2 linked regions of the Homo sapiens genome follow. The protein of the gene in region 2 purifies or fractionates together with the protein of the main gene of each other region. This does not show direct contact. Each region holds a gene or a part of one and is shown on either strand. Other genes may lie near its edges. The genes, in order: NCAM1 and SIGLEC9.

Region 1 (7,158 bases), on a different chromosome or scaffold from region 2:
ATATGGCTCACTATAACTGTGCTCACAGTCAACTTTGTGGAAGCGCACCTTAATTTGCTTAGTGAGAGATATTATATATACTACTTGATTTCAATGTTAGCTTTTGTAAAGTAGCTCTTTGTTCTTAACCGATGGTATCTTGTTAGAAACCCAGTCCTATCCATTCCTTGACTCTTGCAAGTTTAACTGGCAGAAGACTGCAAAATTATCAAGTAAACATGTGACTTAACCATTCCAGATCGTTCAAGCGAACAATTCTTCAAAACATCCAAAATTTATACTAGAATAAACTCAAATTTACTATGCAATTGCACAACCTTTCATTGTATTTCTAAAGAGCAGAGGACACAGAAAGAGGAGAGGGGCAGCCCATCGGACTCACTTGACGTATTAAGGTTAGCTTGCCTTATATGTAAATTTTCATATGCACCCAGCCGAGCACACAAACTCAGTTACCACTGCCCTGGACATGCTACATTTGAGTCCAAAAAAAAAACAAAAAAAAAAAAAACAAAAAAAAAACCTCAGATATATATACATATGTATATATACTTGTTGTTATGTTTTCATTTTCATTCTAACCCTTTGACTTGAATTCTTTGATTTTTTTAAAAAAAAACTATGGTACAAAAGACATTTTAATGGGAAATTATTTCTCTTTGGAAAACCATTCAACTTCTTTCTTTTGTTAAGCAACCTTGTATGTGTTTCACGTTCTGCCTTCTTCCCATCCTCAAGGTACCGGGCCAGGAAAGAGGTCGCTTTCATTCCAGGGAACACTGGTTAGAATGCCTCCCCTGCCTGGGCATCCAGGAACATCCCAGTGGGAATTCCTGGGCCTGCAACTTCCACGGGATCCAAATACTGATGACTGTACCCATCACGATGATGGAAAGGACCGCCAGGCGATCCCCCAAAAGGCCCACCAAATATCCGGGCTCCATTGTCACGCTCCCACCCGGGGGCGAGGATGTCTCAAAAACACCCCCCTTCCCCCGCCCCATGTGGACAGGTCGCGTCGCGGCACCCACGGGCACCGCGGAAAGGGGCATAACCGGGGTGGCCCCCGCCCAGGTGGCAGCGGAGACCCAGGGCCAGGCGGACTAGGCTTGGTCCCCACCCCTCCTCTCCGGGCCCTGCCACGGCCCCGCCCCGCCGTCAGTAGAGCCCCCGGCCCGCGGTCGGCCGGTCAGCGCACGCGCGTAGGTGTGCCTGCCAGGATGCCCTCCCCGGCGACGCGCTCAGGCCCGGATTCCGCGGCGCGAGAGTGAGCGCTGGCGGGGGCGGTGGGATGCTCCAAGTCGGCGTGAAAGAGGCGAGAGTGGGCGAGCACGGGCGGCCGGACCAGGAGCACTCCCGGTGACCACCTAGTCTCCATTTTATTTCCTCGGAAACTGCCGGGCAGGCGGGGGACCGGCCGCAGGGCGGGGTTTCTCTTGGCGGTGAGTGAGCGAGACCGTTAGGCTGAAGCACCGGGAGACTGTCCTGGCAGCTCCTGGCCGCCACCCGCGCCGCAATAAAAGCCTCTCGCGGCTTCCCGCCCAGCCAGCTTCGCACTGATTGGTCGCCGTGGGAGGGACCCGAGTTGGCTGGAGGCGGCGGCCGAGCGCTGCTCTTGTGCCGCCCGCGGAGGGGGCGCACTGGGTGCTCCCTGGCCCGCCCCGTGCGCTCCCCAACCGGGGGTCGGCCGTCCAGGGCAGGTACAACGGTACCTGGAGCTGCGACCGCGACACACAGCCCCTCCGCCCGGCTTTCCTCGATCGCTTCCCAGCACACGCCCCCCGCCCAGAATGTCCGCCCAACCCACCCAGCTCTCTGCGGCCCCTGCTTTTCTTCCTTCCCTCCCGTCCATCAGAGCCAAAGCGCAAATCCTTGGGTGGAGGTGGGGGGATGACAGCTGGAGGGGAGGGTGGGCACGCACAGAAGAATTTTCCAGGGAGGCCGGGATGGAAATAGCCAAAATGAAATGCACCTCCCTGCACACTGCCGAGGTTCTCTGGGCGGCGGCGCAACCCCCGCCACCCGCGGCAGCATCACTACTGTCTTCCTCCCAGCTCCCTATTGTTCACACTTTGCCAGGATCGGGAACCTCGCCCAAAGAAAGGAGACAGGGCGAGGTGTTTCGGGCGGCTACCTGCCATTCTTCTCCCGCCCCGTGCAACACTGGGCACGCGGCGCGTGTAAAGACACACGCGCGCACACGCGCGCGCACACACCAGGCAGCCCCAATCACGCCCTCCTCGCCCTCCGCCCCTCCGCACTTCCTCCTGTCAAAACGCGGCGCTCGACCCTCCCATCCTTCAGTGCTCGCGGCCGAGGGTAGGCTTTGCAACTAACCAGCAATTTGGCAAATGAAAAACTAACGTCATGTCGACTGGGGTGCAACAACGGTCACACCAACAACAACGGCCGTGCGATTCTGCCCATTTTGCCCCATTTTGCAAACCGTTATTCTTCTGGGGCGGGGGAAGCAAAGCAGCGATCCTGACTTTATTAGACCCAGGAATATAACGATCTGGGGCGGCTGCCCTAGCCTTATTGTTCACTCTTCCCGGAGCCGGGGCTGACAAGCCACTTCCCCCTCGGAATCCGAGCCCGTGCGGCGGCACCACCCGAGCCGCGACCTCCCCCGCCCCGCCGCCCGCCTTTGGGGAAGGAGCGCTGCCCATCACCAGCGCGGCCGCTGAGTCCCCAGGAGCCGGCCGGCTCTGCTCCCACCGCCGCGGGCGCACAAAGTGGGAAGGGCGGACGCGCCGGAGGGGCGCCGGGCGCTGGCGGCTCGGGGAGGCAGCCCCGTGCAGCGCAGCCCTGGAGGGAGCGGGGTTCGGCTGGGCAGCAAGGGCGACGCGCTCCTTTCACAGCTAAACGAAAATGACCAGCCTTAGCAGTCCACGTAAAACCACCCAAAATAATAGCGTTCCTCCTAGGAGTAGGAGGAAGGGGTAATTAGCAAACCAGATTGAGAATTAAAAAAAAAAAAAATGTACCTGCAGTTCCCAGGAAAAACAAAGTCCAGATGAGATCCTTAGTTTGCAGCATTGTAATCTGCTGGCTGGGAGGGATGTTCTTGCCGCGGTAAATTCTGTGCCCCCCCCCCTGCAGCGAGTGTGGACGGCGGCTGAGCGACAGACCTAGGGGCAGACAATTGCCAGGCTGAGTATGATTATTTTTGCAGAATTGTTTCCTGCCAGCGGCAGCCGAGCTGCGTTCACGCGCTGATCGGAGAATGAGTGACAGTCCCAGCCTCAGCACACTCGCAACTCGGAGATCCTTGCGCTGGCCCGGGTTCGTTTTGATGGAACTGGGATGGGAGCGAGGAGCGGGGGGCGGGGGTGAGAACCTCACTGTGTCCTTCCACCACGCCGGCCACAAATAGTGCCGAACATCAAGGAGGTAAGAGAGACAGGGGAGGCAGATGCGGAAGCCTGCAAAACGCGGCCTGGAGCTTTTGGGGGAGCCGGGCTCTTTCACACGCAGTCTCCCTGGGAGAGCTGGGATTTCTTTTCACACTTCTACCCTACGCCTTCGCAGGCGCTCCTGCTACCCAGCCTTCCTTAATCAGCAGTTTGCATATTTTGATAACTAGTAAATAATAAAAGCAAAATTTTAGATTTGGTTAGGTAAAGTTGTCAAATCCCTCCATTTCGATTCTAAGATCCTTGCAACACAAGGATAGCCCAGGACTTTAAGTGCGGGAAATTAGAACTTTGGAGAGGGATGGGGGTTGCCGTTGCTGGGTGTTGTTTGGATATTGTTTGTTTGTTTGTTTTATCCTAACTGTGAAGTTTGCTCTCCCACAGAGAGACATACAACACCCTTCAGCAGATCCCCTGGGAAGGAGGTGGGAAGAGACTTAAGTTAGAAGAAAACTCCGATGTTTGGAAGAGATTTCCAGAAATAACCCGAAGAAAATGTTTTCCTGTTTATAAATTCTGAAATCTGTGGTCTCTTTATTAAAATAGCCAGGCTTTTATATAGGTATTATGATATAGAAGCGTCATTAAATAATATTTTCTTACATGGGGACGTGACCTTAATTCTTAAAGATATTAATGTATAATATTACTGAGGTACCAACACAATAGGCTTTAATTAAAATTCCACCCGTGTTTTCAAAAGTAGGGGGTGGAGAAAGCGGGGTGAAAAGAATCATGTCTCAGCACCTGAAGGCTTGGGTATGTAAGGAACTAATGTGAGAAAGGTGTTCTAGATGTCAGGTTAACCCATTAGCCTAGAACACTGAAACCCTCTAACAGAGGAAGTCTGCATAAGTTCAAAGGCATTAAAGCACTAATGTTACCGGGTACTCCGTTTTTCTTCAAAGGTCGGCCTCCCCACTCCTGTAGCAGGTTTTTTGTTTTGTTTTGTTTTGTTTTGTTTCTGTTTTGTTTTTTTGAGATGGAGCCTCGCTCTGTCGCCCAGGCTGCAGTGCAGTGGCGCCATCTCTGCTCACTGCAACCTCTGCTCCCGGTTCAAGCGATTCTGCTGCCTCAGCCTCCTGAGTAGCTGGGATTACAGGCGCGCGCCACCACGCCCAGCTAATTTTTGTATTTTTAGTAGAGACGGTGTTTCACCATGTTGGTCAGGCCGGTCTCGAACTCCTGACCTCGTGATCTGCCCACCTCAGCCTCCCAAAGTGCTAGGATTACAGCCGTGAGCTACCGCACCCAGCCGCTGTAGCAGTTTTTAAAAGTCCATCCTCTACTGTCAGGACATCCATCCTTATTGGACAGGCCCCATCTCTTCCCCACTTTCCTCCTCTATAATAGACCAAGTGGGCCACACCAGTACAGTGTAATTAGCTTGGACCCCTGAAAAGTATTTCTTCCCCCAAGTAAATCTTCCACAACGTTTACTTTGGGCTATTTCTCTCATTCCAAGTATAAACAATTCAAAAGTACAGAAAAGTAGAAAGAACTAAAAATAACCCCAAATCCCACAGATTCCAGAGATACTCATAGATTTTGTCTTCTGTATGTGCATATGATTTTTATAATTGACATATTATAGTAGCAATTTGAATCCTGCTGATTTTGCCTAACATCAGTATAAGCATTTATTCCTCTGGATCATTAAAAAGCTTTTCTAGATATTTTTATAGCTATGTAATATTTCTTCATATGGATGATTTTGCAATGGTTTCCCCATTTTTGCATATTTATATTGTTTGTGGAGTTTGATAATATAAATAAGGCTTTTTTGAACATCTTTCAACAAATATTTGCGGAGCAACCACTGGGTTTAGCCCTGTGCTAGATGCAGTGAATTATATACGTCTTTTTTTAATGGTTGCTGTATTTAAGTGTCTTTGATTTCAGACTTCTGCTTCTAACATCTAAAATCACCACATTAAATATTACAGATTTATGTAAATGAATGTTATCAGACTCTTTCCTTAAAAAAGAGGTTTTGATGGTGAGGAAAGATAGAGAGAACAGGCAGGGGGTAGAGTGGGGAGAGTGAAGGTTGGGGCCCCCAAAATAAAAATTTTTCCAATTTTGCCCCTAAGAGTGAGAGACACATTCTTCCCTGCAAACCTCCCTCCTTATAGTCCTGTCAGTAGAATTAAAAGACTCCTCACTATTTTTCTCCCCAAATGTCCCTATTTTTAGCTTTTCAATGTAGGCAAGTGTGGAAATCCAATCTCACTTGAGTATGACTGAATTTCTTTTTTTTCCCTCTCTCTCTCCAGCCCCTCCCTACCCCGTGTGGTTGTTGATCTCTGTTGTAATGATTCATTCTAGAATGCTGCCCCAGTCATTCCAGTCCACACTCCCAGTATCACTCCCAAATTCTTTTAACAGGATATGTCACTTGTCTCCAATTCTGTATATCTCCGCTAGTCGGTGCCTACATCTGTGAGCTCTGTTGCGTTTCAATCCCTTCCTGATCCTCATTTTAAAATGGACAAAACTGTGGCCCTCACTGGACCTCTCTCCCCAGAGAGAGGCCCAGGCTGTCAGGCACACATTAATGAGCATCTACAAAGTGAACATCCATGGGATTGAGGCAGAGGAAGGAGACTCCAGACTGTGCTTTAGAGAGAAAGTTCTTTAGAGAGGAAGCAGAGAATGGTCCAAGAAGACAGCCATGGCAAGGAGACAAGCTAGGAGGCCATGATAGCTCTGGATAGGGTGACAGGGACTAATTAAGAAAGCGACAGTGGGAAAGGAGGCAAAAAGGAGCCCAGATTTGCAATTCCAAGATAAGATAAGAACAGGTGGACCTGGGTATGTTGTGAAGATGGAAGTATGAGGCAGAGGAAGAAATCCAAGTTCCTTTCATTCATTCAACAAATATTTATGGATTCTCAACTAAGTGCCTGGCACTGCTCTGGACACTGGGGATGTAGCCGTGGACAAAGTAGAGCCTTTGCCCTCATGGGATTTCCTTCTTATGGGGGAAGACAGAGAATAAATCCTTAAACATTTAGTAGTGTACAGATGGTGATAAGTGCTAAGGAAAGCAATAAGGAGAGATAAGGGGACAGAGAGTCTGGGGCGGAGAGGGATTACCATTTTGTTTAGTGGAGCTATACGGGTGTATGTGATACAGATCTTGAGAAAGTGACAACCGCTAAGGGTCCAGTGTGGGCAATTGAATAGTTGCTGGTAACATTGACAGGGAGCAGAAGAAGAGGGGCAGATTCAGACCAGGTGATAAGCAAAGAAGCAATGATGTCAGCTCTGCACATGCTAAGTCTGAGATGTTTCAGAGACATCCAAGTGGAAATGTGTGGAAGACAGACAGAGAGGGCCCAGAGAACATCAATGTTTAAGGTACAGGCAGAAGGACTTATCAATGAAATACTGAAAAACAGACAGCTAGAAAGAAAATTGAAACATGACAATGTCACAAAACCTAAAGAAGAAAGCTTTGAGGTGGTCAAAAAAGAGGAAGATTTAAAAGAATTTCCTGAATTTGACCATTGGAAAGTCCTTAGTGGCCCCTGGGGGAACAGTATTCATGGAATGGAGGGAAAAGGAGACATCATGGTCCCAGAAATGAAAGGGAGGGGAGGAGAGAGAAGCCAGGGGTGTGGACTACTCTCTCCAGCAGTGTGATGTTGAAGGAGTAGTGGGATAATGGCAGGGAGGCAAGCTTGTGGGAGAAGGAGGCTTAAAAGACAGTTTTCTTTTCTTCTCTTTTAATGTGAGG
Region 2 (3,202 bases):
GAGGAGGGTCCCCAGTGTGCAAGGACTGAGGTATGAACCAACAGGGCATGTTGCAAATGATTTGGAAAAGACCAGAGGGACCAGTGGGTTAAGTGGTGAAGATGGAGGAGTGGACTGAAGTGGGAGAGTGATGTCACGAAGAGGATGTGATGGGAGGTTCAGGATCCAGGAGCCATGGATGGGCTGTGAGCAGTGCGGAGAGAGCTCAGTGTGTCCTAAAGATTCCCACTGGACTGTGCACAATACGTAGACTGCAGAGAGTAAGGCGGCCTAGCAGTCACAGGGTGGGCAGATGAGGCTGAAGAGGTGGGCAGGATCCAGATGCTACCTAGACCTGATTTGCAGGCTGAGGTTATTTCCTGGAAAGTTGCAGAATCGCTATTTTGCAGGCAAGTGACACAGACATATAAGTACTAGTTGCCACCAGAATCAGGAGAGGTTCCCAGCAGGACCTTTGTGTTCAAAGCACAGCGATCCATCAGTGCTCGGCATACACCTGTGCCAGGAGCTCTAACGGGATGTGACTCCTGGAATGGTGACCACAACCTTGCAAGTAGGGCTTCTCATTCCTGTTTTACAGAGCAGGAAACCAAGGTACAGAGAGGTAGGAATTTGTCTGTCTTTTAGTTAAAAAAATAAAAGGGAGGGCACAGTGTGGATTCAGGTTTGAGATACTTTGACTCTAAAGCCTGTGTGCTTTTCACTCTGCACATAATTCATAGTGTTATCATAGCTCATCACGTTGAGGGCTGTTAATTCTACAAGAATCAGCCTCTGACTTCTCCCTTGCCTGGAGGGGCTGTGATCCCTCAATCAGGGTGAGTCTCTGCAGTTTCTCATCTGTGGATCTTGATCTCCGAGTACTCGGTGTCAGTGGCCTCCTGTCCCCGCGAGTCCCAAGGCTTCACCATCTGGAAGCTGAGGGATGCATACTGGAGCTCTCCTTCCCCCACTGAGGAGCGGGCAGAAGCTGGGGGAGGCTGGTCTGGGGGACTGTCTTCTGCCCAAGGTTCAGTCAGGGGCCCCTGAGACATGGGAGAGAGAAGTGAGTCAGAGCAGACAGTGAGGATGGGGCGCGGTGGCTCACATCTGTAATCCCAGCTCTTCAGGAGGCTGAGGTAGGCGGATCACCTGAGGTCAGGAGTTTGAGACCAGCCTGGCCAACATGGTGAAACCCTGTCTCTACTAAAAATACAAAATTAGCCAGGTGTGGTGGTGTGCACCTTTAATCCCAGCTACTCAGGAGGCTGAGGCAGGAGAATCGCTTGAACCTAGGAGGCAGAGGTTGCAGTAAGCCAAGATTGTGCCACTGCACTACATCCTGGGTGACAGAGCGAGACTCCATCTCAAAAAACAAAAACAAACAAACGAAAAAATGCACTTGAGGCAACAGCCTCACTCACTTCACCCTTGTTCTTGCCCTAGTGGAGAGGTAGGTGCTTAAAAGGTCAGAATGTGGCCGGTCACAGTGGCTCACGCCTGTAATCCCAGCACTTCGGGAAGCCAAGGTGGGCAGATCACAAGGTCAGGAGACTGAGACCATCCTGGCTAACACAGTGAAACCCCGTCTCTACTAAAAATACAAAAAAATTAGCTGGGCGTGGTGGCAGGCGCCTGTAGTCCCAGCTACTCCGGAGGCTGAGGCAGGAGAATGGCTTGAACCCGGAAGGTGGAAGTTGCAGTGAGCAGAGATCGCACCACTGCACTCCAGCCTGGGCGACAGAGCAAGACTCTGTCTCAAAAACAACAACAACAAAAAAAAAAAAAAACAAAAAAAGTCAGAATGTGCACTGCTGCAGGCTATAGAGTTTGGGATTTTTACTCTAGATCAGGGGTTGTCAAACTACAGTATCTGAGTCATATCCAGCCCACTCTTTATGTTTGTGAATAGTTTTATTGGCACACAGCCATATTCATTTGTTTACACAGGGTATATGGCTTCTTTCTTGCTACAACAGCAGATTTGAGGAGCTGCAATGAGACTGTGTGGCCCATGAAGCCGAAAATAGTTTCTATCTGTCCCTGACAGATAGTATTTGCTGGCTTCTGCTCTAAACGGTATTGAGGGGTGGGGGAACAGCTGTTCAAATGCAGAGGAACTGGACGATGATGTCTTCTGGACAGTCCCCCCAGGCAGGAAAGGAGAGGAGACAGGCAGACAGGTGAGGGAACAAAAGACAGAGATCCTCAGGCCTCAGCAATGAAGGGTCAGGATAGGGAGCAGAGACAATAAAAGCTGTTCTTAGGGGAGGAAACCAACCAAACATTGTGATTTGGGGCTACAGAGAAGAAAGGAAGAACAGAGAGGAGGTAACTTTGGCTACGCCCAGCTGATTAGTCCTGGGGGTCATCCTGTGGGAGGTGTCCAGGCTACATGCTGGCTGTGGAGAGTCCACATCACTCACCTGAGAGGCTGAACCCCTGACAGCGTTTGCATCCTCTATGCCCGTATCTCCCACGCCCGCTGCTGGCCTTGCCGATTTCTTCCTGCAGGACCTCACTCTGAGTGAAGAGACCAGAGAGCCTTTCAGTGTGGTCAGATTGGGGTGCGGTGGGCAGACCAGGTACCCCCATGTGTTTCCTATTAAGGGACTGCAGGGGTGACTGAGGTGGGAAAGCAGTGGTCCAGTCTTAGAGACCCCAAGGTTGAGAACAGAGGCTCTCTTCTCCTGGACAGTGGGTACCAAGGTTTGCCACAGACTCAAAGCTCCTCAAACACAGGCCCACATGGAATTCTCACCATGCACCTGTGACCTCCTTCTTGCCCCAAGCTCTTGACCCATCCAGGTCCCTCCAGCTCTGGCTTCAGGGATCCAGCTTCCAGCCTGTCCTCCCCCAGGGCTCTCCCTCCCTCCCTCTCTAGGGTCCATGCTTACACAACGAAGATGACGCAGAAGGACAGGAAGACCAGGGCTGTGGCTCCAGCTCCCCCGACCACCCCCTGAGTCACTCCTGATGTGGCTTTGCCTGTTGACAGATGGGAGTTATTTTTGTGATATATCATAGAGAATTGGGTCTCTTCTCCTCCCACTTCCTGTAGGGTCCTAGACTTCTATTTCCACTTCCCCTTTCCAGACACAAAGAACAGGAATGAGAGAGAGCAGGACATGGAGAGACTCTTCCTGAGGCCAGTGAGGCGTGCAAGTGCCAGCCATTCCTTTTGGGGTTTTTTTTCACAATTTTAATATTTTATCCATTAATG

What was found.
Region 1: the proteins of SIGLEC9 (region 2) and NCAM1 purify together in Homo sapiens (affinity purification with mass spectrometry; 3 studies listed by BioGRID and IntAct, with this or other methods). This does not show direct contact.

Annotation. Positions count from the first base shown.
Region 1 is NC_000011.10:112,957,494-112,964,651, reverse strand, and holds the start of NCAM1 (neural cell adhesion molecule 1 isoform 2 precursor), read right to left. Parts: upstream 3,233-7,158; 5' UTR 3,040-3,232; coding exon 2,988-3,039; intron 1,443-2,987; exon of another isoform or gene 1,192-1,442; intron 1-1,191.
Region 2 is NC_000019.10:51,127,714-51,130,915, reverse strand, and holds the end of SIGLEC9 (sialic acid-binding Ig-like lectin 9 isoform 2 precursor), read right to left. Parts: intron 2,968-3,202; coding exon 2,877-2,967; intron 2,503-2,876; coding exon 2,406-2,502; intron 2,117-2,405; coding exon of another isoform or gene 1,922-2,116; exon of another isoform or gene 1,875-1,921; intron 1,026-1,874; coding exon 837-1,025; 3' UTR 606-836; downstream 1-605. UniProt on the Homo sapiens protein: Putative adhesion molecule that mediates sialic-acid dependent binding to cells. Preferentially binds to alpha-2,3- or alpha-2,6-linked sialic acid. The sialic acid recognition site may be masked by cis interactions with sialic acids on the same cell surface.